Linked DNA regions of Homo sapiens. The protein of the gene in region 3 interacts with the protein of the main gene of each other region in a pairwise test. Each region holds a gene or a part of one and is shown on either strand. Other genes may lie near its edges. The genes, in order: DCX, YES1, BICD2 and ZSCAN23.

Region 1 (3,949 bases), on a different chromosome or scaffold from region 3:
ACGACTTCTTTTATGGTTGTCCAGTTTGCTATGGAAATAAAAGGCATTGATTTTTTAAAAAGATGATTGGAACCTGTCTTTGGCCACATAGGGCCACTTGGATCCATTTCCAGGCCTTACTCATATATTGCCTTCACTGAAGGGCTTTGGCTTTAAGTCCCAGACTGGTCTCCCAAGTGAACCATAAGTGTTTTGGAGCTCATCTGGGGTGAGGCATGAGAATGTTGCCCCATCTATCCCTTCAGGAAAAGGTGCCTTCCCTCCCTTTCTCCTAAAGCCTGGTCCCCAGAAATTGTTTTTGTCTCCAAAAGTCTAGTATGGTCTTTATACACCCAGACTCTTAGTGTTGCGTCCTGCCTTGTTTCCTTGTTAAGGATCTATGCAGACCTCCCGCTTTGGCTTAGCTAGCGTGACATTGGCTATCATTTGACAAGACTAACTTTTTTTTTTTTTTTTTTTTGACTGAGTCTCCCTCTGTCACCTAGGCTGGAGTGCAGTGGCACAATCTTGGCTCGCTGCAACCTTCACCCTTCACCTCCCAGGTCGAAGCGATTCTCCTGCCTCAGTCTCCCGAGTAGCTGGGATTACAGGCGTGCGCCACCAAATCTGGCTATTTTTTTATTATTATTATTTTTAGTAGAGATGGGGTTTCACCATGTTGGCCAGACTGGTCTTGAACTCTTGGCCTCAAATTATCTGCCCACCTCGGCCTCCCAAAGTGCTGGGATTACAGGCATGAGCCACCATGCCCAGCTGACAAGACTAATTTTTTATCCCTTGGTTTATTGGCTTCAACATCTTCTGGAATCAGAGGTGATTTTTTCTTACCTTGGATGCCTGAGACTAGGGGAGTATAGAATTCCAATTGGTAATTAAGGCATCTTTCTGCTCCTGATCAGAAGGGCAGGTTAGTTGGGAGAGGTCAGATGGCACAACAGAAGTCACCTTGTAAGTAAGGCAAAGACTTGAAGGCATTAGCGTTTCTCATTACTAGGTCAATAACCTGAGGGAATCAATGGCTTTTTGCCGCTCTACCTCTTGTGTATCTCTTTGACTTTTCTTTCTCTGTCTAGTTTCCTCTGTTCTCAGTTTATATTCTATGTTATCAGTCTCTCTTTCCACAGTACAAACATCCATCCTTTCTCCTGTGCAATTCTGTCTCTCCCTCTTATTATCTTTATTTGTACTTTTTCCTTCCTCCCTGTCTAGGCATTGGGCATGTGCCTCTTCTTAGCCTGTGATTTTGCCTTGGGACTGATGATAAATTATTTCCAGATTCAATCAGCCCTGGTCCTACCCCAGTCCAATCAGAAGTATGTTGGTGGGAATCAACCTGATCCTGGCCCTTTCTTCTTCTCCATTTTCATTCGTAATCCCCCTCAGCAGATCTTTACAAGCAGTTTCCTTATAGCTCATGTATCTTTAGGTCTTTGCCTTCCAAGCACTGTACAGAATACTTTGTGGTTCCTTTTTAGTCTGACATTTTGTGGAGCAGTGAAGCGTGCTCAGAGACATAATCAGCTGAAGAGAAAAAATCCACCCATGGATTTATATCAGCTAAATACTAATAATTGATTTTGTTTGATGTGCCCATAATTTTTAAAGCTGCAATATAATATAATGAGGGACCACAGGTAATTTCTCCTGTCATTTGTTTTGGCTGGATGGGGGTGGGGGAGTAATTGCTTAAAGTTTTACCATTACACATTAAACTCTCTATAATAATCTTGTTTGGGGCTTGCTAACTGTTGAGCTGTTTTAACTAAACTGGTAGGCAATCGGAGTTGATTTAAATGAAAAGATAATTTAACAAATCTATACTATAAAAAGAGACATTTGCTTAATTGACATGTATTTTTTCCTTCTGAGTCACCTAAACATTTACTCTTGACACCAACTGTTCATGATACTGAATAGACAGTCCATATAAGAGAAATTAGTGGACCTAAAGAAGCCAGATTGTAGGTGTTAATTTATTAAACAGAGTGCAAAGCCCTTGGAAATGTCACTGCTTGGCAATACCATATGGAATGCCAAAATTTACAATGACTTTTCTTTATAAGTTATCCAAAAGGGATTTGAACAAGTAAGAGGTTATGCCAAAATGTCTCCAATGTATGGTCCTGTAATATATTGCAGCTTGAAGCCAATGATCCCTTATGACTTGTATACAACTAATGCATGTTTTATTGAATTTTGCATTTCCCACGTGTGGTAAGTTCTTTAAAATGTTTTTGATCACCTTTTTGTGCCATTAAACTTGTACAGAAAATGTTTTTATGGCCATTTTCAAAGGGAGAAAGTTTAAAATGGAAACAGCCCACCCTTTCTGCCCTATAGCTGTAGTTAGAATTGAGTACCTGTAGCAAAACAGCTGTAATTGGTGGTTGTAGTGTTAGAGGTGTTAGCTTGCTAGTGACTAGCTTTGGAGAGTAAATGCATGGTATTGTACATCACATTTCTTAACTCGTTTTAACCTCTGAAAAGAATATATTCTTCTTTGTAGTCCTTCTTCCCACCCCCTTGCCCTCTCCCTCTCCCTGCTCCCAGTTGTCTTACAGTTGTAAATATCTGATTTGAGGCCCAATAACTCTTGCCAAGTAAAGTCAGCAAACAACAAACAAACCAAAATGTGGGGAAAAGGCATTTCTCAACCATCTCTCAGCAGTTATTGATCATTTCTTAAGGAACAGCATTGTGATCAAAGACTCAACTTTACGTAAAAATCAGTGGTAAATTGGGGTTGTATTTGGCCATTTGATTACATTTCAGGATTGAATAGTTTTCAGAATCACATGTAATCCAAAGACAGTAGGTAGTGATGTCCCTTATCCCTGCAGCTGTTTTAAGATAGAGACCTCAGAAGACTCTGCTTGACCGATGACCAATAATTATTTGAAAAAAAAAGAAAAAATGAGAGAAATAAAACAGATATTTAAGAACTTTAGCCACCTATTTAGAATAGTTATAGCCAGAAAAAAAAACAAGGGCATGAGTTCAAATGCATTACTATCAGTGTCCTAGGCAATACCTAACCTACTCTGAAATTGTGATTCAAAAGCAGTATTTCAAGAGGCATTCTCCTTTTTTGGTTTGCTGACCCCACTTGGACTGGTAGGTTTGGTGAGGCCCCCATAAACCAGCTGGAGCAGACCCTTTTCATCTCCTGTGCCTGTAACACCCCTCTTCCCCCACCCCCTCCGCAATTCAATGAGGGCTTTCTTGGGTCAGAGGACTTCAAGGTTGTCTAGAGAAGTTTGCCATGTGTGTAAGGTGCTGTGAACTGTGAGTGCTGAAGATTCGCAGCATTCAATACCAGGCAGCCAAAGAGCTGCTCTTGCAATTATTTTGGCTCTCAAGCTCTGTTCTTCATCGCATTCTCATTTCTGTGTACATTTGCAAGATGTGTGTAATGTCATTTTCCAAAAATAAAATTTGATTTCAATATTTCTGGCTGACATTCTTTTAAAAACAAAAACAAAAACAAAAAACACTGAACCAATAATCATATAACCTCAAAATGTCCAAGCTGGCAGGGAACTTAGATATTATTTTTTCCAACCTCTTAATTTTATAGAAGAAGAAGCTGAGAGTAAATGTATGATAGAAACACCATAATTATTGGTACAGCACATTTACAAAAAATAAGATCTCAGATCTCCCCCCAGAGTTGAGCAGGAATAAAGTGACCTCCTTTTATGCATAAGATGCTTTGGCCAATGTCAGCCTGTGTCATCAGGTGGTGACTTCTAGTACCATGTTTTCAGAAGCCCAAGAAACACTCCATGCCCCCCAAAATACCTCTACCTGCTGCTTGCAATTTCTTTTACAGTGTGGCTATTCTTCTTCAATAGGCTGATGGTGCAGCTACTCTCTGTGAGAGGAAACACGGAGATATCTTATTTACCCTCAGACGTAAATGACTGATGACATAGTTTTCTCAGATCAG
Region 2 (7,035 bases), on a different chromosome or scaffold from region 3:
AAAAATTTCTAAATAAAGTTCTAGTTCGTTTTCTTTAATAACTTAATTGTTTTAATATTTTCACAGAAGACACAGGTTTTACAAAATTAAAATCCGCTTCGGCTTGTATGTTGTAAATAACCAATAGAAGATAATCAAAATGTTTATTGAACGAATGGATACTGTTCTGTCATCAAATACTCTGTTTTTCTGAAAATTACATAACATGACAATTAAAACTCAAAACTCAATTACGGCATCAAGATCCTAAGTTTTGACTTTTATCTATTTTCGGTTTTCTAGAACAGTAATTCTTTAGATCAGTAATTTCAGCCTTAGTTTTTCTATTCTTAAGAATGCCATGAAATCTCAGCATAAAATAAGTTTTTGTTTAAAGTTTATGAAGATTCACAGCACCTGAAGGATGAATATGTTTTGGTTCAAAAGGCAAATGACAATATGGTGTTGGAGTTTCAGAAATGCAGAGAATCATTGGGTCATGCTATTTTATTTGCTTTATGTAATGGCTTGCTATTTTAGTGGTTGATATTGTGGCTTTGCATTGTTGTAGAGTTGAAGAAGAGATCTCATCTGTGCCAAATTTTTATATCACAGGAACTTTCAGTCATGTTATAAAGGTGATGTTTGTGGTGCACGCTTTGTTGTGTGAATATTTACAGGAAGTTTTAGTAAGATCTTCCATTGTTTAGAACCCTACATGGCTTAGGTCACCTTCAGTTCACATTTAAACAGTTTTATAATATAAGTCCTATAGCGAGGCACAACTGCTTTTCTTTAAAGGAAATAATCTGTTTCTATTAAAGTGTCTTGTCTTATTGGTAGTTCGTGTATGGCTATGGTAGGGTATGTATTATCTCTTTTCTTCCTCTCAGCTGCTCCAGTGCCACAATTAGGCTGAGTATTGCTCAGCTGCAGCTGCTGGGTGATTACTAACCATCCAGCTCCTGTCTAAACTCAGAGGCAGATTTAGCAAAAGGAGCTATAGTAACAGTAGAGGGTGAAAGAGAAGAGCCAGTGCTGCCGCCAATATCGTTTTCACATGTCTGTATGCCAAGGAATCGTTGGCTGCAGCAGCACTACTGTTGTCTTGGAACTAGCAGACTTGATGGCAATATATCCTGGTCTGCGTTGGGTTTACCTTTAAGATCTGAAAGCCCACTCCAGGAAAGACAGAGAATCCTGTAATTTTAGAGTATAGAATAATGTACTGTTGAGGTACTAATGGACTGAGTTACAAGCCTCTGTGCCTCAACTCCTTTTCCCCCCCAAATCTAGGGTAGCAATGCCCTTCAGTTTCTCTTGTTCAAATGTACAGTAAGCTGTGAGACTGCAGGTTCCTTGAAGCATTATACTTCATTTCACTTTAAGCTGTGATTCTTAGAATTGCTTCTTTTATTGTTGTTTAGGGGAGGGGAGTAGAATTGCTGGCATATAGGTTCTTTGGACTCTACTTTCTCCTAGGAAGTGGAAGGCCTTCAAGAGGGATAACTTCTAGAATTAGCTATACATTGCATATCCGTGGTGGCTGCCTGAATTTTGCTAGTAGGAACTCTGCATTCTTTTCCTTTTGTTCTTTCTTTATCCCTGGCGTTTGAGAAGATGGACATCAACAGTTGCAAATACGTTATCAGCTATATATGGCAATCCCCAGACTGGAAGATGCCATAGGCAAATTTTGCTGCTTCTAAAATGCTGCTCAGCTTATAAATATGCCAAGCAAATAGCAGCAGTCGCATCTTTTGTGTTTTTGTGTTTTGCTTTGTTTTTGAGACAGGATCTTGCTCTGTTGCCCAGACTGGAGTGCAGTGGTGCAGTCACAGCTCACCGCAGCCTTGACCTCTGGGGCCCAAGGGATCCTCCCACTTTAGCCTCCTGAGTAGCTCGGACCACAGGTGTGCACCACCATGCCTGGCTAATTTTTTTTTTTTTTTTTTGATGAAGTATCACTCTACTGCCCAGGCTGGTGTGCAATGGCACGATCTTGGCTCACTGCAACCTCTGCCTCCCAGGTTCAAGTGATTCTCCTGCCTCAGCCTCCCGAGTAGCTGGGATTGCAAGCGTGCACCACCACGCCCGGCTAATTTTTGTACTTTTAGTAGAGACAGGGTTTCACCATGTTGGCCAGACTGGAGCATGCCTGGCTAATTTTTGAATTTTTTGGAGAGATGGGGTCTCACCGTGTTGTCCAGGCTGGTCTCAAATTCTTAGGCTCCAGCAGTCCACCTGCCTGGGCCTCCCGAAATGCTGGGATTACAGGCCACCACACCCAGCCACAGCAGCGTCTTGTCCTTACTTTTACCACTACTATCTACTGAAAATCTGGAGATATTCCTTTGACTTATCTTGTCTTTGGAATTTGGTAGTTTGGGGTTTGGCATTTGGGATGGAGATTAGAGAGGATTGAGAAAAGTAGTGCTCAAACTTGTATAACCAGAGGAAGGATGAGGTACAGTTAGACCATGCATTTGAACAGTAAGAAGTACACATCATTATGGCATATACTTAGCAAGAGATTGGTGTTATGACCTCTTTGTGCTCCCACAAAACACTTATGTCAAAACACACCTCTCCTTGCACTGTAATTATTTCTTTCCATGCTTGTCTGTTATTCTTGACCTAGTATTCACTGTGTCAAGGAACTGTTTTATAGCAATCTTTGAGAACAGCCCTTAGCACAATAAATACTAAATAAATTCTGAATTGTATGTAGGGATGTGGTTCTGGGCAGATTTATATGAATTACAGCTATGGACTTTTCGCAAACAAAACAAATCTTTTGAGTACACCTCTACTAAAATGTTATAAAACTAGCTTAATACTTTTTCATAGCTCGAAGTTAATTCTTTAGATTTTTGCTCTCAAGGTTTTGTTCTAGAAGGTGATTTTACAAAATAGCTTAAGCAGTCCTTCAAATATGAATTTAAAGGTCATTTTGATATTTCTAATATGAACTGAAAATTCATTGTAGTTGAAGTTAAACTAGTCTCTAGTAAGGTTTATTTTAAATAAATACGTTGTACTATTTTAGTGAAGAAAGTCCAAGTTATGCTGAAGAAAAATCCTAGATTTTTAAAAAATGCATTTGGTATCTCATCACAGTAGTGACAATCAGTATTACAATTATGACTTGTTCATATATACCTAGGACAAAAAGAAAAAGAAGTCCTGATTTTCTTGCAGTAATGTGTGTGAAGGAATGCATAATTCATAGGTGTACTTTTGCTGGGTTATTGGGGGTGAGGACGGAACAGGAAGTGCTAGGAGGAAAAGTACTGACCCCTGAAACTTCAAGATTGTCTGGTTTTCAGCCTCTATTCCCAGCAAAATGTGGATTCTAGGTTTTCTTCAACTGACTTAAGAGGATTTTCACTTCTCTAATTTTTTAATGTAACTTTTCAGTTTCTTAGCATTAAGTAGAAATTGGGGTGAGGTGAGGAAGTTGGTGGTGGTTGTGTATAAGTTAATACTTCACATTGTTTCCTGGCGAATGTATTGACTTCTAACTTTTGTTCTGATGTGATTAATATTTTACAGATAAGGATACTTTAAAAATAATAGCAGCCAGACATTTGGAAGGAGCAGAGAAGGCAATATGGTGTTATAAGGAAAGGACTGGAAGGTAGAGCACTAACACTATCTAGATTTTAGTTTCATTTCTGACAGTGAAGAGCTGTTTAGCCTTGGTCGATTCAGTAAACTCCCTAGGCGTTAGTTTTGCAATTTGAAACAAAAGGTAGTTGGGCCTCATGGTTTCTAATAGTTTCTCAGCTTTATATATAAATGTGTGCTCTGCCGCAGTTGAAGTTGTTACAATATAGTCATGCTCTGCCTAAGGAAGTTTCAATGATGGTGATCCTGTAAGATTATAGTAGAGCTGCCCTATATAGGTGTACCATTTTTTATTTTTTTATACTGTGTAATTACTGTATCTCTTCTACATTTAGTTATGTTTAAATACACAAATACTGTTACAGTTGCCTGCAGTATTCTGTACAGTTGTGTGCTGTACAGGTTTGTAGCCTGAGAGAAATAGGCCATACTATATGGCCCAAGGTTGTAGTCAGCTATACCACGTAGGTTTGTGTAAGTACACTCTAGAGTGTTCACATAATGTCAGAATTGCCTAATGAGGCATTTCTCAGAATATATGTTAAGTGATGCATGACCGTATTGATAAAATTTTAAGGAAATGTTTGAGTCTAAAATTTGGAATCACATTAGATATAAGTAAAGATTATAAAAAACTGACCCATGGACTTGACACGGAACTTTCTCAAGCAAATTGCAGTTCTACTAATTAAGCAAACATTTATACTACTATGCTAGGTTTTTGGTTTGTGTTTTTTTTTTTTGAGTCAGAGTCTCACTCTGTCGCCCAGGCTGGAGTGCAGTGGCTTGATCTCAGCTCACTACAACCTCAGCCTCCTGGGTTCAAGTGATTCTCCTGCCTCAGCCTCCCAAGTAGCTGGGATTACAGGCGTGTGCCACCACACCCGGCTAATTTTTGTGTTTTTAGTAGAGAATGGGATTTCTCCATGTTGGTCAGGCTGGTCTCCAACTCCCTATCTCAGGTGATCCGCCCGCCTTGGCCTCCCAAAGTGCCAGGCTTACAGGTGTGAGCCACCTCAGCTGGCCTTTTTTTTTTTTTTTTTTTTTGAGACTCAGTCTCACTCTATTGCCCAGGCTGGAGTGCAGTGGTGCAATCTCGGCTCACTGCAACCTCTGCCTCCCGGGTTCAAGCAATTCTCCCTGCCTCAGCCTCCTCAGTAGCTGGGATTACAGGTGTGTGCCACCACACCCAGCTAATTTTCTTATTTTTAGTAGAGATGGGGGTTTCACCATGTTGGCCAGGCTGGTCTCGAACTCCTGACCTCAGGTGATCTGCCTGCCTTGGCCTCCCAAAGTATTGGGATTACAGGCGTGAGCCACTGTGCCTAGCCCAGATTTTTTCGTAATAAAATTAGAAAAATGACTTAATTATTCTGTTGAAGTGGATAGTTATGATGTCAGTTAACAAGTAATCGTGGCTATTTGAATAAAAACTTTGCAACATTATATGAGAAAAATAGCCACTATCATCAAAATTTACATTTAATTTTTTTAATTGACAAAGGTATGGACAACTTGTTCTGGATATTTGTCTTTATACACATACAGTTAATATTTAGAACAAGACAAGCATGGCATTGGAAAATGGTTAGCCTTTTAAGGTTTGTAAAATAGATTTTCTAAAACAAAGAAACTAAAATTACAGTGTTCTGAAAGTTTGTAAGTTGATGTTTTGAAAATTAGAATCTGTTTTTCCAGGAAGTCTTTTCTGTAACATAAGCCTTTTGGCCTGATTTCTAGGCAGCCCGTTGGAGTCTTATAAAAGCCTCACAAATAGGTAAAATAATACTTTGGTGGTAAAATATTTTCTGACTGATTATCAGTTTTTGCCTGGTTTTTGTTAACTGCTGAGCTCTTTGAACAAATAAAATATTTGGCCTACAAGTGCTCTGATTATGAGGTGGGTGAACCTGTAGCCTTGCCAGTCACCCTCCTTTCCCACCTTACCAGCTCCTCACTATTTAAAAATCACTGTTTTGAGTTCCCTGTTAGGAGACTCAGATTCTCCCAATAAGGCATTGCTATTAAGCTTAATTTAAGTACAGAAACTTCCCTAGGTTTCCCCACCTGCTTGCTAGTGGCAGTGAAACCTGCCTCATACTCTAACCCTATAGGACAGTATGAGGTATAGAAAAGCTTCAAAAGATTGGGGGTAATAAACAAAAATAGTAGAAAAGGGTTTGGGAAAATGAGGAGTGTTACAATATGGAGTTTGTAACTTCTTTACCTTCTCTGTGCTTTTTTTATTTCCCACCCATTCACCTCACTTTGGCATTGGGTAGGGAAAGAAGAAAGCCTGTCCTATGATAGGTGCTATGCCATACTTTTATATGCATTATCACATTTGACTTGAATCTTTGAAATGTGTTTCCAAAATACACAGAAAAATTAGGAATGAGATGGGTATTTATTTTTTGTTTTTGAGACGGAGTCTCACTCTGACACCCAGGCTGGAATGAAGTGGCAAAACCTTGGCTCACTGCAACTTCTGCCTCCCAGGTTCAAGTGATCCTCCCACCTTGGTCTCTGAGTAGCTGCTGGGACCACAGTTGTGAGCCACCATGCCCAGCTAATTTTTTTTTTAATTTTTAAAATTCAAAATTTCTCACCATGTTGCTCAGACTGATCTTAAACCCCCTAGGCTCAAGGGATCCTCCCGCCTCGGCCTCCCAAAGTGCTGGGAAAACAGGTGTGAGCCACCATGCCCAGCCTGTTTTTTATTTTTATTTTTTTTTAGAATAGAGACAGGGTTTCACCTTGTTGCCCAGGCTGTCTCGAACTCCTGGGCTCAAGCGATCCACTTGCCTCAACCTCCCGAAGTGCTAGGATTATAGGTGTGAGCCACTGTGCTGGGCCCCTTGAGGTAGGTATTTATTACAGATAAAGAAACTGAGAATCAGAAAGTATATATAATTTGCTAAGGTCACACAACCGGCAGAACTGGGATTTAAACCTAGGGCTGACTACAAGCCTGTTCCATATGCCATAACTTTCTTAGGAATGAGGAGCAATGATGGAAAGGGAGATTTCTTGTCTTTTTTCTTCTTCATTAAATAGTACATTTGAATTGCTGGCAGAGAATGTTCAATTAATACTTTTTTTTTTTTTTTTTGAGATGGAGTTTCACTCTTGTTGCCCAGGCTGGGGTGCAATAGTGTGGTCTCCGCTCACTGCAACCTCTGCCTCCCAGGTTCAAGCGATTCTTCTGCCTCAGCCTCCTGAGTAGCTGGGATTACAAGCGTGCACCACCTTGCCTGGCTAATTTTTTGTATTTTTAGTCAGGCTGGTCTGGAACTCCCGACCTCAGGTGATCCACCTGCCTTGGCCTCCCAGAGTGCTGGGATTACAGGCATGAGCCACCACGCCTGGCAATACTTTCTAATTATTTTATTTTCTTTCTTTTTTAAGAGAGATGGTCTTGCTGTG
Region 3 (7,035 bases):
CCTGGATTTCTTAATGAACATGGCATTTAAAATCTGTAATTTCAAACATGAACCACAATGCCGTATGATCTAAAGGCTGCTGAACCACAGCGTGGATACACTTAGCTGAGCTCCTCGCTGGGTCAAAGCACTCATCTCCGAGTCTAAAGCTACACGCTATGGAGCACACAGCTCTGCCTCGTGCTGACACCAGACAAACACGGTGGGAGCTGAGGCGGACAGCTACAGGACCACGAGCATAGACCACGGCACCTGAGACCGTCTCTACGCGAGGAATTAAGGAAGCAAATATAATATCAAAATATCAAAAGTGCACAGGTTGATCGGATAAAAAAAGAACATGTGTAACAAGGAGCCCCCGTGGTGGGCGTTTCCAGTGGGCTCCTGGCGAGCCTGGCAGCCAGGGAAGAAGGGTCTTCGGCCCATACAGAGGCCTTTCCACGCAGCAGCTCGCAGCATGCTCAACATTAAAGCTTTTTTTCCTCCCATTAAAAACCTGGGGAATGCTATTTTGAAAAGAATTGCAGTGGCATATCCAAAAAGTTTCTAAGTGGGCTTTTAGGTTGCCCTTCCTTCCTCCTTGTGGGCCACGAGAGGGAAGGGGAAGGGGCTGCAGTGTGACAGGGCCGGGTGGCCAAGTCCTCCTGGCAGCTACTCTACAGCTGAAAACGGGAGAAAAGAGAGCGTTAGAAAGCGGTCATCTGTCGCTTCCTGTTTATCTGACAATTGAAGCTCTCCACGTGCTGGGAGGGCGCGAGCACGTTAGTTGGCAGAAGAGAAGACCTGCATGTGTTAGCAGGGGTCCCAGTGGCTTGGGTGTCTGCAAAGTCCCTTAGGAGTATGGAGAGAAGCTATGTGCCAGGCTTGCAAGGAGAGGGCAAAGCGCATGCAGGGTGGGCATGCCAGCAGCCATCCCACTGCGAGTCTTGCTGGGGCAGGGGGATCTGGGCCCAGGATGAACACGCAGGGGACATACATGGGCGTGTCCTGGAGTCTGGAGGGGACCGAAACATACTCGGCACCAAAGGGAAGAACGCGCAGGGCAGAGAGCTGTGGGAGGGGGCAACACGGTCTCTCACCAGGTAACTCGAATGCCTCTTCCGCATGAGAGACAAGGCAAGCAGCCTGCAGGAGAGAAGACTGCAGCCTCAGGTCCAGCTGGTCCCACAGGGTGATCGGGAAAAAAGTACTGAGAAAAGTTCTGCTCAGAATGTGGGAAGGCAGGTGTGGATGGAGCCTCTGGAAATGGGAGAACCCTACAGCTACCTTTCCTCTTTCTCTGTTGCCATCCCCCAGATTGCACTAAATAAAGAGACCTAAACATCTCCTACCTGTGAATCCTGACAAGTGGCCCTGGCCCTATGCAAAGCTTTCCCAGCACCGGGCTGGGCTCTGGATACACCTGTGGGTGTCCAACCCAGCCAAGCCCTTGGTGGCTCAGACTTCAGGCTAGGGTTTTCAAAGCCCCATGTCTTTGGGACTGAACCCCCTATGGAAGGCCGGATAATTGGCTGCTGGGGTCACCCCAAGTACAAAAGGACGGGCTCTGCACTAAGGACCAAGGTCTGGCCAGGCACTTGGAAAGCTTTTCTCATGAAAAATGAAAACCTGGGGCCTTGGGCCCTGCCAATCTGTCACCTCACAGGCCACTATACAAGCATCCTGATCTCAGAAATGAGAAACCGAGCTCTGGATTCCTGGGTTATGGTCAGCTGTGTCTGTGCCATGTGTGTCTGGCCAGCAGAATACAGGGGCTCAGGGCTGCTCTTCTCTGGGCTTGGGGAAGAAATTCTGCACTTCTTTCCTGAATATGATTTGCAGTCAGATACTGCATAAACTACAACGTACTCCTTTCCATGAAACTATGCCAAGTGCAAAGCCATCCTCTGAGGTCGTACCTATGCTGCAGGCTGGAACCTCCTAAAACTGCTTTCTAGTGCTGACATTAGACACATGCGAGGAACATGCAAGTCTCAACTCAGGTTCTGCCCCTTTTGGGTGCTGAGGGAGCAGGACCAGGACTCCTCCCTTGGGTTTCCCCACGGGTGCGCAGGGCTTAGAAGATGCTTTCATCACACATCTGCTGCAAGAATGTGCAGCTCTATCCCCACCTCTGACCCCCACCTAAGAGAGCAGCTGAGGACTGGGTGCTCCTGAGGGGGCTTTGAGGAGTGAGAAGCGACACAAAGCTCTCACAAGTGTCCTGCTGATGCAACGCCCCATGGCGCCTCGGCTAGACTCCTACCCTCTGTGCATTAGTCACGTTAAGATTGACCTAGCACCGCCGTCCCGCTGCTGCTGGGTTAGTTGAGGTGAAGCAGATGTTAGCTGCAGCGTGCGGCGCCCCACAGCCCCTAATCACAGTAAATGCTGTGCTTCTCGCTGCAGAACACCTGGTTGGCCAGCCCGGTGCCCTCGGCCCTGTCGCTGGCACAGGCACAGGTGTGACTTACGCTCGGTGTGGCTGGCTTGGTCTTCGGGGCGGCTTTGGCACGGCCACGCCGGGTCTGCTCATGGTCCAGCTCGAGCAGCTCCAGCCGCTGGGTCAGCGCCAGCTTCTGCTGGATGGCCATGCGCAGCAGCGAGTTCAGCGTCTTCTTCTCGTCCTCAGCAGCCGCCAGCTGCCGCTGCATCTCATCCAGCTGTGTAATGTACTCGTCACACCTGTGGGTACCAAAAACATGACTGAGGGGCGGGCAGAGCCGAGCAGAGGAGGGCAGGGCAGGGCAGGGCTAAGCTGCACGGCCCTCTGACAGCCCTATACCAGAGCCATCCTTCAATGTGGCCTCTGGACTGGAGGGTGTGGCTGGGGAAGAATTATTCTGGCTTATTTTAGCACAGGCTTTGCTTGGACAAATCCCTGATAAGGGTGAGAGGGAGGCTTGGGCCCAGGCAGGGCAGCCCTATGAGGCTGGCTTGAGTTTTGTGGTTTTGTGGGGGAGGGGCTGCTTTGCTCTTTCAGCTGCATGTAGTGCTTACAAACAGGCTATGCCCCTCAGCGACTGGGCTTCTTCTAGGAGGCGCTCTCCCCGCTTAAAGGCCTCGAGGTGGCCTGGGGCATCAAGACATGGAGAAGCCATGGCTTCTAGGGTGTGGATGTAAATCTAAGCAGGACTGGGCTTGTTCCCAAGGTCGATGCTTCGTCAGTCTGTGCTGAGCACTGACCAGAGCCAAGGAACCACGTGTGTGGACGCCATCAACAGCTTCATCCTGAAACCCGGGTGCGGAGCTGTGGGAGGGTGTGGTCTGTCCCTGGATGCCCTTCTTCCACATGTCCCATATGGGTGGGGCTTGGTAGAGACAAAGGGCGGGTTAAATCCCAGGGCTCCCAGGGCGGTGAGGCTGTGCAGGCACTGAGCACAGCCCCACCCTGCCCACACGCACCCTACTCTGCCTGTCCCCACCTGCCAGGAGCCGGCCCTTGGATAGCACCCTCTCCAAGGACTCTGCTGCCCACCCTTTTGAGGGCACACAGAGCTGTGATCCCTGCAGATTCAAAATCTTGGCTCCATCTGAAAAGTTTTTAAATAAAACAAATTTTAAAAGGTAGGGTTTACATGCCAGATACTGAGAAACTGTGGGATTTTTTCCCCAAGCCCCAGGAAGACAGGACGCTTCCAGAGAAATCCTGGGACTCTTCCTTGTCTGTACCCTGCTCTGGCACGTCCTGCAGGGATACTGAGAAACTGGGAGTGCACGGCACCAGGCTTGAGAGAAGCAGGCCCTATGTGCATGCAGTTCCCACCCTGTCCAGCTCAGATCCTCAGCTTGCTCACCCATAAAAAGGAAACATCTAGGTTATCTGCTGGGCCCATGGTGGGCCTGGCTGTCCCCCATGCAGGGCTGACCCCATGGTGCTATCCCAACATGACCCAGCAGGTGGCGCTACCCATCTTTGGAAAGTGAAAGACAGCGGTACCTGTCAGGGGGCACCTGGGAAGATGCTGAAACCAGGACCTGCCCCACAGAGGCCTGTGAACACTTAGGGAGCCTCGATTCCCAGCCTTGGGGTCTGAGTCCCAGCCAGGGAGGGGTGTGCACCCACCAGGGGCAGCCCACCTCAGAGCCCATTACTAAGAGCCCTCCACAGAGGAAGAAAGAAAGCTGGTCTCCTCCAAGCCCCGGCCCTCTCCTCACCCTCCCCAGATTGGCAAAGTAGAGGATGGGAGGTGAGTACCCAGCGGTCACAATGACGCAGAGGTACAGGGCTATGCACAGAGGTGGGACCCGAACTGTGGACCCCAGCAGTGACCTGCTCCAGCCAGGAGGATAATCTTCCTTCTGAATCTACAAACATAAATACACACTTGTGCCATATGGCCAAGTTCTTGGGGGCAAATACCTCATGAGAGGAAAGGCCAGGACTCCTCTGTCACCTGTTGGCCCCAAGTTAAGTCCCTGTAAATGTTGGATTCAAGGGGTGGGAGCCCAAGCATCCCCTGAAGCTATGCAACTCTGGCCCATCCACTCCAGGATCTGCTCTCCTCAGCCCTTCTGCCCTCAGTCTCCATATATGCAAAGCAGAGACAAGCCTGGGCCTGCTGCGGTTTCATTCACAGCAAAATGGAACCGGCGCCACAGAACCAGGCTCCTGGGGGCTGGGCTAGGTGCAAAAGGAACATTAAAAGGATCACACACGCTCTGCTATCCCCGGCCACATGTGGGCACCTGCCAGGCATGCCCTATGCTCCAGCAACTGCTTGCGTGACCTCGGAGGAAGCTGAGGTGCAGCAGCTAGGGGCCCCCAACCCCATGTGGCCCCCATATCGCCTCACCCTTTCTTGTCACCAACTTGAGCACCAGTGTGCCAGAGATGTGCCAGGGGCCATGCTTCCCCAACCTCGTACCATGCTGGCCCTGATGGAGCTGGGCACAGCCACTGACTAGTCAGGGCTGCAGGCCTCAGCATGAGGCAGTGAGAGGCTAAGGGTTCCAGAGGCAAGTGCTGAGGACAGCTGGCCTTGTGGAAGGGGAGGGCCCGACAGCAGCACGGTTACCTGGTGGCAAACATAGCACGCAGCGAGGAGAAGGTGGCTGCGTCCTCCTTGAGGGCCTTGAGCTCATTGCGCAGCTTCATCATGGTCTCGGTAACCATGGCCTTCTCATTCTCATACTTGCTCTTCAGGTTGGCAAGGGCCACCTCGGCCGTCTGGGGGACAGATGTGTAGGGTGGAAAAGTGAAAGGCGTGAAGTCAGCCTAGAGGTGCTCTGGGAGCAGGATCGGGAGCCCCGGTCTGAAGTGGTGGCAGTGCCTGGGAAGAAAGCTCCTGGGAGGCCCCTCCCTGTGACAAACCCTGGGGATGGACTCCAGCAGCTACGCCATGGGGAGTCCCACCTGCTGATTCTGACTGGCAGAGGAGGGACTGCCCCTAAACCTGCCAACAGGACCTCCACGAAGCCCCACAATTGCTCTCCACAGCTCAGACTATGGCTCTCACATGTTTTCCCTCCAGTATCAGGAAGCACTACGAGGCAGTCACAGTGAGTCAAGGGCAGCGGCATTTCTCACTGGCTGAGCAGCTCTGCTGAGGGGCCCTCACACCCACCTGCCTGCTCCACCCTCCCAGCTGGGGGCCCTGAGCAGGGGAGGGTAGGCAGTCGAGCTACTATGGGGCTGGCTCTGTCTGGTGGTGACGCAGGCCTGGGGGGGCCCCGTGGCAGGGGGAGGAAGGAGGCCAAGGGGGAAACACCCTTAGGCCAGTAGTAGGTGACATGTGCCCCTGCTGCCTGGCACCTCACCTGCTTGTTGGCCTTGAGCACAGTGCGCAGCGTGGTGATCTGCTCCCGCTTGGTGCTGAGCAGCGACTTCAGCTTGAGGATCTCCTCCATAAGCGCTTCCTTGTCCTTGTCCACGGCGGGGCCCAGCTCCTGAGAGGCAATGCGCTGGCGTGACAGCTCCGTGGTGCGGTCCACGGCTGCCTGCAGGTGCTTGATCTGGTCACGGATGATAGCGATCAGGTTGTAGATGTTCATGGGCTCCCGGCGTGGGTCACTCAGGGGTGATGGCAGTGAGGAGCCAGGCGAGGGGCTGCTGTCCCCCGTCCCACCATCTGCTCGGCCCGCCTCAGGAGCCAGCAGCCCCTTGGGTAGGAGGATGGGTGAGCGCCGGCCACGCGCCTCGGGGCTGGTGCGGCCCCCGGGACTGGTGCGGCCGGCCCCGCCCTGGCCCTCGCGGTAGTAGTCCAGCATGACACGGTTGGGTGTCTCATTGTTGCACATGCACACGTGGTGGTAGAGATTGGCCAGCTCCTCACTGAAGGTCACCAGCTCATCCTGGGCCACACTCAGGCTGCCCTGTGTCTCGCCGGCGACGTCGCTCACCTTCTTTAGCTCCTTCTCCAGCCGGGCCAGCAGCTCGCGGTCCTGGCGGCTGGCCTTCTCTAGCAGGGAGACCTTCTCCGTGAGTGCCTGGCCCTCAGCCTCATAGCGGCCCTTCTCCTCGGCGTGCTGGGCCTCACGAGCCTCGTGCGTGCTGCGCAGTGCCTTGAGCTGCTCGCGGAGCTCGCCAGCCTCAGCCACAGCCACATGGTACTTGCAGGCCAAGATCTCAGGCCCGTTGATGTCCACCTCGTAGTAGTCCCCATCCTCATGGCTGTCACGGTCCTTCTCGTTGTCCAGGGCTGTCTGCCGCTCCTTGCTGGCCTGCAGGCGCCGCAGGGCACTCAGATTCTCTGTGAGGCGGGTCACCTTCTCCTGCTGTTCTGACAGGGAGCCCCGCGTGTGCTCCAGCTGCTTCTGTGTGTCCTGCAGCGTTGCCAGCAGGCCCGCCTTTTCCCGCTCCATCTGCAAAGGCACAGGCAGCAGGACACCATGTCAGTTGCTATGGACCCCGAGAGCTTGGAGGACCCCCAAGATGGCCTAGTGACATCCCACCCCATGTCAGGGCAGGCTGTCAGCCCCAGGTTCCTTGGCCATGCTGTCAGTGAGGTGGACAAAGACACACAGGGTGTGGAAAGAATGGAATTCATGCTGGGCCCTCAGAACACTAACCGTCACCAGTAATGGTGGTCACCCTCAACGCAGGCTCTTTCCCCA
Region 4 (7,035 bases), on a different chromosome or scaffold from region 3:
CTTACCCTAGAACCAATTCAGCAGATCATGTTTCAAGCCATGATGATCTCTTCCCTGGATGATTATCATAGCATCCCTCTCTGCCTCCACTTAACCCCAAGGTCATTGACACAGCGGCTAGAGTTATGCTTTTGTGTTAAATGGAAGTAAAATTTTGTTACCCCTTGGCTCAAAAATCCCCAGTGGTTTCCATATCTCATAGAATACAAGTTAGAGCCCTTACCACTGCCTTTCATGATCAGTTCCCAAGCTCCCTGCTTTATCTCCTGTTACTTTCCCTTTTGTTTTCTTTGTTCCAGCCATTGTTCAACTAGCTATTACCTGAAGAATCCAGGTGTGTTCCCACCTGCAAAAATTTGCACTTGGCAGTTACCTTTGCATGGAACAGTCTTTCTCCAGATAGCCATGTGACTTGCTCCTCACTTCCTTCAGGTCTGTTCAACCATTACCTTATCAAGGCCTTCCCTGACTCTATAAAATAGCAACCTTTCTTTCCCCTTACTCTCTCTCTCCTTACCTTTATTTTCTCTATAGCATTTATCACTACTTCACAAATACTTAATTATTATCTGTTTCCTCTGACCCGTTTTCCTCATCCTGGCCCCTCTTTTCCCCAACAGAAGTTAGTGTTGTAGCAGTGGAGACTGTAAATTCTGATGTCAGATTTGTTGGGTTTGAATTGCAGCTTCACTGCTTACTATCTGTAACTGACTTGAACTTTGGACTAGTAACTTAAACTTTTCATATCTCAGTTTTCTCATCTGTGATATGGGGGTAATAATAGCACCTTATTCATGGTTGTTTTGAGGATTAAATGGGTTAATATATATAAAGCATCTGTAACAATACCTGGCACGTTAAAAGCACTATAAATGTCCGCTATTATTAATACTGTTATTAGGATGTAAATTCCATGAGACTAGGGACTTCGTTATAATTGCAGCTGTATCCCCAGTGCCTAGAACAGTACATGGAATATGGTAGGCTCTGAATATATATTTGCTGGTAGGCTCTGAATAAATATCTGCCAAGTGAATGAATGGTGTATGAAAAGTTATGACAGAAAAAGATAGTATGGTAGTCACAGTGGTGGTGAGTCGCACCAAGAAAAGTGGAGGAAGGCTGGGCGTGGTGGCTCACACCTGTAATCCCAGCAGTTTGGGAGGCTGAGGCAGGCAGATCACGAGGTCAGGAGTTCGAAACCAGCCTGGCCAACATGGTGAAACCCTGTCTCTACCAAAAAAATACAAAAATTAGCTAGGCATGGTAGCGGGTGCCTGTAATCCCAGCTACTCAGGAGGCTGAGGGGAGAATCATTTGAACCTGGGAAGCAGTGAGCTGAGATCGTGCTGTTGCACTCCAGCCTGGGCGACAGGGTGAGATTCCGTCTCAAAAAAAAAAAAAGTGGGGGAAAACATGAATTTGCAGATTCTGTCTTTAGAGGAAAAAAATCCTCTGTACATTTCCTGGGGTAGTGATTACAGAAGGTAACCAAACCAAAGATGTCAGAACTTTATGGAGAGGATTATGTGTGCAGGTTATCCGGAAGGATGCTGTCCCATGCCAGTAGTTTGTTTCCCCTTTGATAAATATAACCAATAATCACAATATGAATCTAATTTTTCTTCGGGTTGTAATGTGATCAGTGTTCACTTGTAATTTAAATACCTGATATGGTTTGGCTGTGTCCCCATCCAAATCTCATCTTGAATTATAGTTCCCAATTTCTCATAATCCCCATGTGTCGTGGGAGGGACCCGGTAGGAGACAATTTAATTATGGGGGCAGGTACCTTCATGCTATTCTGGTGACAGTGCGTTCTCATGAGATCTGACGGTTTTATAAGGGGCTTTTCCCCCTTTTGCTCGGCACTTCTCCTGCTGCTGCATGTGAAGAAGGACATGTTTGCTTCCCCTTCCACCATGATTGTAAGTTTCCTGAGGCCTCCCCAGCCATGCTGAACTGTGGGTCAATTAAACCTCTTTCCTTTATAAATTACCCAGTCTTGGGTATGTCTTTAGTAGCAGCTTGAGAACAGACTAATAAAATACCCTATTCTTAGTTATTTAATTTCACAATGCATGTCAACACCTTAAGAATAGTGTAGGGTTGCTGGGCGCGGTGGCTAATGCCTGTAATCCCAGCACATTGGGAGGCCAAGGCGGGTGGATCATCTGCGGTCAGGAGTTCGAGACCAGCCTGGCCAACATGGTACAACCCTGTCTCTACTAAAAATACAAAAATTAGCCTGGCATGGTAGTGGGTGCCTGTAATACCAGCTACTCAGGAGGCTGAGGCAGGAGAATTGCTTGAACCCAGGAGGCGGAGGTTGCAGTGAGCTGAGATTGTGCCACTGTACTCCAGCCTGGGCAACAGAGCAAGACTCCTTCTCAAAAAAACAAAAACAAAAACAAAAAACAACAAACAGAATAGAGTAGGGTTATTTTTGCAATGGATTACAACAATTTTACTTAAAACAAAAATATTTTATTCTACAGGTTATTATTCATTTGTGGGTCATAAAATCTATGTGGTGTGTCACAACCCACCACATAGATTTTATAACCCACAAAATCTGTTCCCAGGCTTTTTTGTTTTGTCTTTTAATGAAATAGGTTTAAAAATAATTGTATGTCACTATATAGAGCAAGGATACATAGTGTTTTGTGAAATTATTATTTTAGGTATTTGTGTATCTCATAAATGCACAAACATATATACATATGCATGTGTGTTCTGGGTTATAATATAAAATATTTCTTAATAAGAGTCCTGGTCAAAAAAGTTTGAAAGTCTCTACTCGAAGATGGTGCTTAGAAATCACTGGGTCATATAATTGTTTTTCTTTCAGAAAATTTTCTTCATTAATTACTATCCTGGTAAAGATTGCTCATAAGTTTGTTTGTTTTTGTTTTTGTTTTTTTGAGACAGAGTCTTGCTCTGTCGCCCAGGCTAGAGTGCAGTAGTGTGATCTCAGTCCACTGCAACCTCTGCCTCCCGGGTTCAAGCGATTCTCCAGCCTCAGCCTCCTGAGTAGCTGGGATAACAGGCGTGTGCCACCAAGCCCAGCTAATTTTTGTATTTTTTAGCAGAGACGGGGTTTCATCATGTTGGCCAGGCTATTCTCGAACTCCTGACCTCAGGAGTCATAGACATTTGTCTTTTTATTAGCAGTAATTTTATTTTACATAAAATTGCCTACTCTCCACCTTCAAGTAGCTTCAAAGAGAAAAAGTTTCAAAGAAATTAAAGGGCAAGAGAAAGGTCAAATTCTACTCCTGTTTTAAAGTACTGGAACCAATATTTCCGTCATTTTAGTATCTCTGAGCCTAGACCACTGCAGTCAACTACTTTCTGATTCTTTTGCCTTAGCCTTAAACCACTAGGATATTCATTTAATCATACAATAACATAAGAAAAATAAGTGTTACCACTTTGGAGTTTACTAAGTAGCCAACTTCTTTGTGCTCATTATCCTCGTTTTATCTTTGTATCAACCTAGAAAGATAGGCAGTGTTGGTTTTAGGATTCCTGTTTTATAGATTGAAGAGACCAAGGCTCAAAACATGAAGCCCAAGACTCTGGAGGGAATACCTGCAGGTTGATGTCTCAGTCCAAGACCTTACACACTTTAAACCTAGATCTCCCTCCTCCATACCTCCTATGGCTGGAGGGACTCTACCTTCTATGGCTGGAGGGACTCTGCCTCCTCTCTCCAAGTGCATTTCTTACGGTTCTTATTCTTTTTATATTCTTTACTTTCCCTCCATCCTCCATTTGTTTCCCTTTTCTTCTTGATTCTTGGTGTCATCTGTGACCACTTGGGCCCAAAGTGTTTTTTTACCTTCATACAGCTAAAATTTACCCTGAATTTAGTATCTTGCTATTCAAATGGAAACCCAATATACTCAAGCTGATTTGAGCTGTTTCGGTCAGGATGATTGAAACAGTACCTTCCTTCAGAAAACTGTAGGCGTTTTTGTTCCATTTCTTTTTTCTTCCTATATTATCTGGATTTGTATTTCTAAAGTATCTATCATTAATCAGGTTTTGGTGTTCCTTCATGAGACAGAGTGACTGATTTTAGTGTAAATACTCCAGTCCCTCCTTGTCCTGAGGTTTTCTGCATTTTTATATTTTTTTCTTCGTAAATTATTGTCTAGATCTCGGGGTTTCCAGAAGAAAAGATCAAGGGAGAATTATCAAGAATAGATTATTTTTCTGAATAGTTAAACCTTTGATGGCCATAACCTTGACCCTTCAGACTGCAGAGATGCAGGAAGGACTTCTGGCAGTGAAGGTAAAGGAGGAAGAGGAGGAACATTCCTGTGGGCCAGAATCAGGCCTGTCAAGAAATAACCCTCATACCAGAGAGATCTTTCGTAGACGCTTCAGGCAGTTCTGCTATCAGGAGTCCCCTGGGCCCCGGGAGGCTCTTCAAAGACTCCAGGAGCTCTGCCATCAGTGGCTGAGACCAGAGATGCACACCAAGGAGCAGATCCTAGAGCTGCTGGTGCTGGAGCAGTTCCTGACTATCCTGCCTGAGGAGCTCCAGGCCTGGGTCAGACAGCACCGTCCTGTGAGTGGAGAGGAGGCAGTGACTGTGCTGGAGGATTTGGAGAGAGAGCTGGATGACCCAGGAGAGCAGGTGAGAAGATGGGAGAACAGGGATTTGTACCTATAAGAACAAGTATGGGGTTTCAGTGCAACAAGAAAAGGTAGAGGAGGAGGATTTTTTTTTTATGCCAGACTTGATCTTCTGTAGGCTTTTAGTCTCTCTGCCTCTGTTTTTTCTTTGCCAGCTTCTTGGTCCTTCTTTTCTATCCAGCGGCCCTGAGGAGGCCTCCTTGCCATGTTCTCTCTGATATTGGGTTCCCAACTGTCCTTGATTTCCACCAGGTCCTGAGCCATGCTCATGAACAGGAAGAGTTTGTAAAGGAGAAGGCAACTCCAGGAGCAGCTCAGGAGTCATCAAATGACCAATTCCAAACCTTGGAAGAGCAACTTGGGTATAATTTGCGAGAGGTGTGCCCAGTTCAAGAGATTGGTGAGGATCAGGATTTCCTCAGACAGCCTACCTCATTCCCTGAATATTTATCAATTCAACCCATTTATTTAGTGTCTGCTGTATGCCAGGCACTGTGCCAGGTACCAGGGATACAGTGATAAACAAGGCAGATGTGGTCCCCACTCTCACGAAGTTTACAGTCTAGTGGGAGAGGCAGACAATTAAGTAAGCAGTTATAATACCATGCATCTTTTCCCTGAGGTCTGGGTATAATAGCTTTAGAGTGGAAAAATAAACAGAAAAAGTGGCTACTTGTCCCCTTCCACCCATTCTCCTGGCCACTTTTTTTCTTTTGTCTTTGGAAAGATAATCTGTTATTTTTCATACTTCATGTTATCTTTCATGTTATCGTTATTTTAGATGGCAAGGCTGGGACTTGGAATGTGGAGTTAGCCCCAAAGAGGGAGATTTCTCAGGAAGTGAAATCTCTTATACAAGTTCTTGGAAAACAGAATGGTAATATTACTCAGATTCCTGAGTATGGAGATACCTGTGACCGTGAGGGCAGATTGGAAAAGCAAAGGGTGAGCTCTTCAGTGGAGAGACCCTATATCTGTAGTGAATGTGGAAAAAGCTTCACCCAGAATTCCATCCTTATCGAGCACCAGAGAACACACACAGGTGAGAAGCCTTATGAATGTGATGAGTGTGGGCGGGCCTTCAGCCAGAGGTCAGGCCTATTCCAGCACCAGAGACTCCACACTGGGGAGAAGCGCTACCAGTGCAGTGTTTGTGGCAAAGCCTTCAGCCAGAATGCCGGGCTTTTCCATCACCTCAGAATTCACACTGGGGAGAAGCCTTACCAGTGCAATCAGTGCAATAAGAGTTTTAGTCGACGTTCAGTCCTCATTAAGCATCAGAGAATTCACACTGGAGAGAGACCTTATGAATGTGAAGAATGTGGCAAGAACTTCATTTACCATTGCAACCTAATCCAGCATCGGAAAGTCCACCCAGTGGCTGAATCAAGCTAGCTCCTTGGAACAGGTAGGGGATAATATTTCTTACTTTGTCCCTGCTGTGTCCTCTAGCATAGAAAAGTTCAAGGGAAAGCCAGTAAAAATTCCCTTACTTTTATGCAGAGAGAAGCATAATATCTTAAATACATCTGCCGAGTTCTCTGATCAGTGACATCCACAGCTTTGCAATACTGAATGTTGCCTCTTGTGTTGATTTCATCATGTATGCTGTAGACCTAGTTTCACACACATCTGTGCAAGAAGTTTTCTATTTCAGGAAAACTTCTTCATCCTAGTTTTTAAAAACTTTTTTTAAAAGTTTAAAATAGTTATATGTAGGCTGAGTACAAAATAATCTCAAATGCAGTTCACCGAGTATTTAAAAATTAACTTAAAAATAATTGTAATAAAATTCATAATATAGGTTTCCTGACTTCTTTCCATTCACATAAAATATGATAATTTGTTTTGTAACCTACAAAAAGGGGCAGATGAATCCTCCTATATAAATGTAGATTTATAGTAAGTTAGATTTCTATAGATTTTTTAGTTAGCCTTTAGGAACCAAGGAACTGAAGCAGCCATATGTTATTAGCAGCTCAGTGGCTCCTCATAACAAATATTGCTCATGATTTTAAATTTACGCAGAGGCTAAGAAACTTAGCTAAAAATCTGATATCTCACCTCAGATTTCTTATTGGAAAATACAGGCCTCTTTGTATTTTTCCCGTAACATATAATGAGCATTTTTTTGTTTTTGCCTTTTTCTCCTTTATTCAATATTTTGTATGGAAAATTTGAAACATATTCAAGATTGAAGAGAAGAGTATGATCACTCTTTCATGTTGATTGTTTTTATAACCTCCACATTTTCTCAGCATTTACTATTGATTACCACCAAGATCATAAATAAAAAAATTTATTTCCCTTAACATTGACTTAGTAACTCTTTACAAAGCTTTACACAAGGTCCAGGAGACAAAGAAATGGAAAACCTATGGTGAAAAC

The links.
Region 1: the proteins of BICD2 (region 3) and DCX interact in binary tests that used the Homo sapiens proteins (3 or more experiments, as listed by UniProt).
Region 2: the proteins of BICD2 (region 3) and YES1 interact in binary tests that used the Homo sapiens proteins (3 or more experiments, as listed by UniProt).
Region 4: the proteins of BICD2 (region 3) and ZSCAN23 interact in binary tests that used the Homo sapiens proteins (3 or more experiments, as listed by UniProt).

Annotation. Positions count from the first base shown.
Region 1 is NC_000023.11:111,293,277-111,297,225, reverse strand, and holds the end of DCX (neuronal migration protein doublecortin), read left to right. Parts: 3' UTR 1-3,447; downstream 3,448-3,949. UniProt on the Homo sapiens protein: Microtubule-associated protein required for initial steps of neuronal dispersion and cortex lamination during cerebral cortex development. May act by competing with the putative neuronal protein kinase DCLK1 in binding to a target protein.
Region 2 is NC_000018.10:802,231-809,265, reverse strand, and holds part of YES1 (tyrosine-protein kinase Yes), read left to right. Parts: intron 1-7,035. UniProt on the Homo sapiens protein: Non-receptor protein tyrosine kinase that is involved in the regulation of cell growth and survival, apoptosis, cell-cell adhesion, cytoskeleton remodeling, and differentiation.
Region 3 is NC_000009.12:92,712,800-92,719,834, forward strand, and holds part of BICD2 (protein bicaudal D homolog 2), read right to left. Parts: intron 6,784-7,035; coding exon 5,740-6,783; intron 5,150-5,739; coding exon 4,998-5,149; intron 2,665-4,997; coding exon 2,355-2,664; 3' UTR 663-2,354; coding exon of another isoform or gene 657-662; 3' UTR 1-656. UniProt on the Homo sapiens protein: Acts as an adapter protein linking the dynein motor complex to various cargos and converts dynein from a non-processive to a highly processive motor in the presence of dynactin.
Region 4 is NC_000006.12:28,433,472-28,440,506, reverse strand, and holds part of ZSCAN23 (zinc finger and SCAN domain-containing protein 23), read left to right. Parts: exon of another isoform or gene 1-432; intron 433-4,163; 5' UTR 4,164-4,240; coding exon 4,241-4,648; intron 4,649-4,899; coding exon 4,900-5,047; intron 5,048-5,428; coding exon 5,429-6,042; 3' UTR 6,043-7,035. UniProt on the Homo sapiens protein: May be involved in transcriptional regulation.